2 linked regions of the Homo sapiens genome follow. The protein of the gene in region 2 interacts with the protein of the main gene of each other region in a pairwise test. Each region holds a gene or a part of one and is shown on either strand. Other genes may lie near its edges.

Region 1 (3,500 bases), on a different chromosome or scaffold from region 2:
CAGCCTGGCCAACGTGGTGAAACCCTGTCTCTACTAAAAATACAAGAGTTAGCCAGGTGTGGTGGTGGACGCCTGTAATCTCAGCTACTTGGGAGGCTGAGGCAGGAGAATCACTTGAACCCGGGAGGCGGAGGTTGCAGTGAGCTGAGATCACGCCATTGCACTCCAGCCTGGGCAACAGGAGTGCAACTCTTCTCAGAAAAAAAAAAAAATGAATAAAAAATCAAATCTTATATTTATGTGGTATTCCCCTCAAAGGCTCTGGAGAACACAGTAAGTACTCAATAAACACTTACTCAACTGTAATTATATGTTGGTTGTCAGCATGCAAGGAACCTGCACCATTACAGAAACTGTCACAGCCAAGCTAAGGAAAAGTTCTCCAAGTTCAATTTCACAGAATCATACATGCCATTTTAGAGTTAGAACATATCTTTTTTTAAAAAAAAAGCCAGTTCTCTCATTTTACAGGTAAAACCTTGGCCCTGGGATATTAAGTGACTTGTCCAAATTTATACTGAGAGTTAATGTTGGAATCAGGAAAATAGTTCAGGCTTTGGAGTTAAGTGCATCAATGTAAGTTACAAACATTCTTCATGTCTTCAATTTCCAGAACTGACTATGATGTGCACTTCAGGTGCAGGCTCTACTCTTCACTCTGTATTATCTCAGTCAGTGGCTACCCTGTAGGCATATAGTACATTAAAAATTCCTTGAACACCAAACTTGACTTTTCCTAAAGGGATCAGGAAGGTCTTGATATTGCTGGTTCAGTATGATCTGGAAATGTCCACACTGAGCATATGGACATCCTACTGCAAAGCAGACCTGGAGGCTGAATCTTGGGATTCTAAGCCATAGAAGAATATATTTTCCTCTCAGCCTCCCTCCATTTCATGCTGTCATGCTGAATCACTCTCAAACACCTATGAACCATTCTTTTTTTTTTTTTTTTTTTGAAACGGAGTCTCATTCTGTTACCCAGGTTGGAGTGCAGTGGTGCGATCTCAGCTCACTGTAACCTCTGCCTCCCGAATTCAAGTGATTTCCCTGCCTCAGCCTCCCGAGTAGCTGGGACTACAGGCAAGTACCACCACGCCCGGCTAATTTTCTGTATTTTTAGTAGAGAAGGGGTTTCACTATGTTGGCCAGGATGGTCTCGATCTCCTGACCTTGTGATCTGCCCGCCTCGACCTCCCAAAGTGCTGGGATTACAGGAGTGAGCCACCGTGCCCGGCCCTGAACCATTCTTTAGCACAGCATACTGGAGAAGCCATGGGCAAATACTTAGTAATCTCTTACTTTAGAAGGAGGGAAGTTGCCTATGAGTGGTAATTCTGCCCCTTCCTCCACTCTAGCCAGAAAAATGTCTAGGTCTTGTCCTGAAGGCTTTCTGAGTAAAGTCAAAAGTTCTATTACCTCCTACTAAGCTGGGGATAGTATCTGTATAGAACACTCCCTTCTGATCTTTCCCTGCTTTCAGCTTTTATATGATCCTCCCCCCTCCCCCCAACCCCTGGTTGCATTCTTACCTGTTTGGCTAAGTGGGTGCCAGGCGGTATCCTGCTGCCCCCATCCAGAACAGCCAGCTTGAGAAGCCTGAAGACTGGCCTGATACAGAGACTCCAATTCTGAGGTCTCCTGCTCTGTGTCTTGGTTCCAATGTGGATGCAAAAGGATGTGATTTCTCTCTGGATAGGTTACACACGTATGGGAATCATGAGGGGAGGACTTCATTCCTGGCCTAGGTGCCCCATGCTTAAGCTGAGAATCACAGAACCTTGTGATATTCACCCAGGAATCCAAAGGCAAGGAAGTCCCCAAGTCAGTACTGCTGCCCAGATCCTTAGACCTAACATCTCTCACTTGGGACAGCTTCTCTTGGTATATGTCTGGCTCTGCCAACCTGGGCTGTCCTCCGCTAGAAGTTTCACCATTAGGCAGCCCAGAGTTTAAGGCAAGAGAAGAATGTTCAGTGGACTCTTCCCAGGAAAGTGGTCTATCCCCACCCTCCAGAGAGGATTGTTGCTTTGCCCATGGCCAGTGGCCTTTCTCTTGACCCTGTGAGAAAGGAGGCTTAGAATCAGAAGGGGAAGAGTTCTTCCTTAGACTACCTGACAAACTTCTATCCTTGAAACCTGTACTATCCCTCATGGAGACACCCTGCATCCTCTGGAACTGCTCAGCCAGAGAACGGACAAGCCCCTTTGTGCTGGGAAACTCTGGCCTATAGGTCTCCTCACTGCCTCTGTCCACTTTTAAAGTCAATGAAGTTTTGAGGCTTTGGCCTTGGAGGCATTGGTTAGTTTTCTGCACAGGATCAGGACAGTGAAGCACAAATGAAGAAGCAACAGGCATTATGGGGTGGCAGGTTCTATACAGGGGAAGGCTGGGCTGAGCTGATGAATTTGAAGGACTACAGCCTAGGCTGTGTTCATCACCCCTCTCAGAGGTGGCTATTCCAGGCATCACCGGGGAGGGGTTAGCAGGATCCTTCTTTTCTTGGAACAGCTGTTCTTGAGCAATGCCTCTTCCTTCTTGTGGAGGGAGCTTGCTGCAACTGCTGTTGTCACACCTAGAGCCTTGCAGCTTACCCTCTGGGGCATCCAATGGCTCCCAACTATGATGAGAATTCTTCTCAGTCCACCCTGGTGCTTTAGGTAAACCTTGCCTGTGGAATGCAGAGGGTTCAATGTTGTCTACTTCAACCGAAGTCAGAAGCTTCAAGGCAGATCTACTGGGGGAGCTGTGCTGTGGGGCAGATGACTCTGGAGATAGTGATGAGTGTGACTCATGGCAGGAAGCAGGTGAATGGAAGAAAGAACTGGCCCCAAACTCTGTATCCATGCCGGATTCCAGTTGGGCCTCTTGGCTTAACAATACTTGGAGCGGGATAGGCTGTTCACTGAAACAAATGGAGAGAGCTAGTCATAAGCTGCCTTGACTGACAGGAACACTTACAGAAAGAACTCAACATTCCATTCCCATTTCTAGCTATTCACACAGGGAATGGTAAAAATAAACAGAAAGACAAGCACAAGTAGAGTCAGTAGTTCAGAGGATCACAAAAGAAAAGGCACATGGTCAGCTCACACTCAGGTAAATAGGTAACGTTAATCCTCTTTATTAAACACCCTCACCAAAGTTGCACAGTAACATTAAGTGGAGCCCTTGCCAATATTCTTCACTACCTGTGAAGTCGCATTCCAATCACATTCTACTTGCAAATTAGGAAACAAAATCAGCTAGTCTCACATGCAGATGACATGGAAGGTAAGCAAAGCCTGAAAATCACTCATACCAAACAGCAAAAATCCAGGATGCTATACAGGGAGGCAAGTCCTACCTGGGGTCCTGAGAGGCAGCCCGGCCAAAGGAACTATGAGGCCACATTTACAAAATACAGGGTGATTTGGGCTCATGGGAATACACAGAAATTAACCATTTCAAATATGTTTTTATAATCTGGATTTTGTTCTATTAGTCACTGAGATGTTTCC
Region 2 (3,500 bases):
CAGGCCCAGGACAGGGCCCAGCCAGGCCTGACCCAGAGGTTCTGGGCCTCCCTTGCACACCCAATCTGCCAGAGAAGGGGACTGAACCCACCTCGGGGAGTCTGTGGTGGAAACTTACTACTCCCTCAGTGGTGAACAGACCCGGGTCAGGGTCAGGCCAAGCTGAAGAGTCCAAGCCAAACCCACAGATGCGGGTTAACATTTGAATCTTTACCAGACAAAATTCCTAACTGTGTCTTTTTTTTTCTCAAGTGCCAATTTCAATCAGAAAATATACTGTGGCTAAAATAAAATAAAACTACAGACTCTACTAATATTTCCTAGGGCTTTACTGAGGAGAGTTAAGTGAATGACTTAGCTTTGCAATGCAGACTGACTTCTTTTTACACTTTAAGAAAAAAAAGACACCCTCATTATACGATAGTAGTAGAAGGTATGCAAATGCAGTCTGTGTGTCCATCTTCTGTAAGGTCTTGAAGGAACAGGAACCCTCTGCTGCCCCAGGCTGTCCCTCTGGGTACCTGGATGATTGGTGACACTGCCATGCCTTTTCTCATGCTTCTTCCCGAAGAGCCCTTTCTCAGCCTTCACATAGGAGCAACTTACCCATCAAACCACAGCAGAGGACTCACCCCCTTGTTAAACCATTCTTTGACTCACCCAGATAAACATGAGCTACTTCTTGTGCATGCCAAATGCACCATGGACATGCTTTGGGTGTCACTCCCATGATACTGAAGTGAGAATATCTCTTTTTTTATCTGTCACCTCCATGAGGCTGTGAGCCCCTGGGGTCAGGACAATGTCATATCCAGTGTTACATGCCCAGCGCTCAGAACAGAGCTTAGCATAGGGTGGGTGCTCTGACAATATTTGTTGGGTAAATAAGTGACTGAATGAATGAGCATGTTAATGGGTGAATTAATGAATGAGTTAATAGTGAATAATGAAGTCATGAATGGGTTAATGAATAAATGAACTAAAGGATAAATTAATGAGTAAATGAACAAGTGAGTAGACAAGTAAATAAATGAGTATATGAATAACTGAGCAAGTGAATAAATGAATGAGTGAATGAAAGAATGGGGTTCTTATTAACAGTCTGCAGGTGAGTCACTGTTCTGGCCAACTTTCACCTCTCTAGGTCCTTTCTCCCTCTTGCTTCGGCCCCAAGTTACAAACTAGACCAGCGGCTGCACCCCTGAGCCTCCACCCCTGAGCCCCCAGAGACAGGGCTTATGCCAGCCAGCTCTTGCCCTGTGTCCACTGTTGCCACTGTGAAATCAGAGCTGCTCCCACCCCCAATACCCCCACTCCACTCCAGCCACAGCCAGAAAGCACCACTCACAGCTGAGCCGCACGGCCTCCCGTGCCACATCTGGGTCTCGGCTGAGACGAGCCAGGGTCACTGCAGCTTTCTGCTGGACTCGCTCACAGGCTGCCACTTCAGCAGGAGTCCCAGACCTTGGTTTTTCAGACAGCATGCCCATGATAAGCTGGACCCCTAGGCAGGAAGCAAGGAACAGTTGGTACCTACCCCAGCATGGAGCCTTCCCCATGGGGCCAGCTGGACAGATGGCTGCAGGGTGCAAGCAAAGGCTGTCAGGATGACTTCAGGGGTCTCACCCACAGGGAGGAAGCTGGACAAGGCTGTTCCTCCATGCCTTCTTCTCCTGAGGGTGTCTCCATGTACCAAGTCACTATACTTGGGAGGAGCATCTGAAGACATCTTTATTTTTTAATGCTATTATTGAGCTTTTACTACACACTCAGCACTGTGCTAAATGCATAGTAAATGCATAATGCCCTAAAACCTTCCAGTAGCCTCATGTATTAGGTACCATTACAATTCCATTTTGAAGCCCAGAAAGAAGTGAAGTATCTTGCCCAGTGTCACATGGTTAGCAGTTGGGGGAGCCGCTATTAAAATTCAGATGTAGCATCACATTTAGGATTAAGAAAACGAAAGAAACTCAGATAACTGGTTTCTCTACATCACCTCTTCACTTCTGATACTGGCTGCTTCTGAGACAGGTCCAGTGGTGATGAATCCCCCAGGTAAGAGGTGATCCAAACCTAAGCTGGATATTGACTAGATCAAATGTTTTAGAGTAAATTCAACCTGGAAAAGGGTGCAGTAGTTAGACTGAGAGTTTTCAACCGAATAATCTCTGCTGAGAAGCCTCCTACCTCTCCCTGAAACCAGATTTGTCTTCTGATTGTTCTAGAAACCATACCCATGTCCGCTCATACCTCCTTGCCTTTACCCACTCTTTCTTTCTACAAGGGATGCCATTTTCCCTCTTGACGCTCCATCTAAAAAACTCCACCCTGCAGGTTGTAGCAAAAGTTCATCTTCTGTGTGAGCTGTTGCCCAACTGCCCATCCCACACTCCCCTCTTCTGCACCCAGTGGCTCCTGCCAGCTTAGAACTTAAGCCAGACATGACCCAAGGATATAGTTTTGCTTTGTTTTGTTGCCCCATATAGTGTCTACAATTTTTTAGATTTTTGATAGTGTGCTAACTGGAGGATTTCTATAAAAATCTAGATTTCTGACTTCTGAAACTGCCTCCTGAATTTTAACCCTAGGACCTCATTTCTGCACAACAAATTGTTAAAGCTTATTATGAGTTCCTTCTTTAAAAGAGATTGATCCTGTCTCTGGTGAGCTCGCCTCGTCCATTTACATTACCTGTCTGAGTTTTGTAGGCATCTAAGTTTGCAACCTGTTATTTAGACCATGGACTCTCAAAGCCCAGTCTGCACAACAAGATTTGCCCTGTCCAGACCTTAGAGGCCTGTCTTCCAGTAGACACCAGTTGCATTGACACCATTGTTGATTCCTCAAATCCTGCCCTGCTTTGGAAAATAGCTCCTTCATTAAACTCTCTTCAGGTAAACCCCGTGAGACTGCCACTGTTTCCTGAAAGAGCAGGGGGGCTTAGCATAGTGCTCATTCTGTGCCAGACAATCTTCTAACGTGCTTCATGTTAATCCTCACAACATCCTTATGAGGTAGGGATTATTCTCATTTTGCAGATGAAAAAACAGAGAGGTCATATGGTTAGTAAACAACAGTGCCAGGATTCAAACCCACAGAGTATGGTTCCAGTTTTCAACCTCAACCACCATGCCAACCTCCCTCTGTTGCATTATTCTATTGTAGATGTTATATTTTTATCATATGTCACTTTTGTTAAGTTGTGCTCTCTGTCTAGACTGTGAGATCCTCTAGGACAAAGACAGGGATTTAGTTATCTCTGTTCTCATTGTCTAGCACAATGCCAGGCACATATTAGGTCTCAATAACTGTTTACTGATTCAGTCAGTCAATAGCACTTTGTGAACCATAAAACCCTCTACAGATGCCAGATATTCCAATCTCAAATTCACAGGCCTATGGAGACCCACTCCCACTGAACACTTCAACGTAAGGCTCTATAAGTACCGAAAGAACGGAGCACAGATGCAGTAGCTCAGCTTCATGGCCTCAGCTGG

Evidence for each region.
Region 1: the proteins of INSC (region 2) and USP54 interact in binary tests that used the Homo sapiens proteins (3 or more experiments, as listed by UniProt).

What each region holds. Positions count from the first base shown.
Region 1 is NC_000010.11:73,514,843-73,518,342, forward strand, and holds part of USP54 (ubiquitin carboxyl-terminal hydrolase 54), read right to left. Parts: intron 2,906-3,500; coding exon 1,533-2,905; intron 1-1,532.
Region 2 is NC_000011.10:15,236,923-15,240,422, reverse strand, and holds part of INSC (protein inscuteable homolog), read right to left. Parts: intron 1,505-3,500; coding exon 1,349-1,504; intron 1-1,348. UniProt on the Homo sapiens protein: May function as an adapter linking the Par3 complex to the GPSM1/GPSM2 complex. Involved in spindle orientation during mitosis. May regulate cell proliferation and differentiation in the developing nervous system.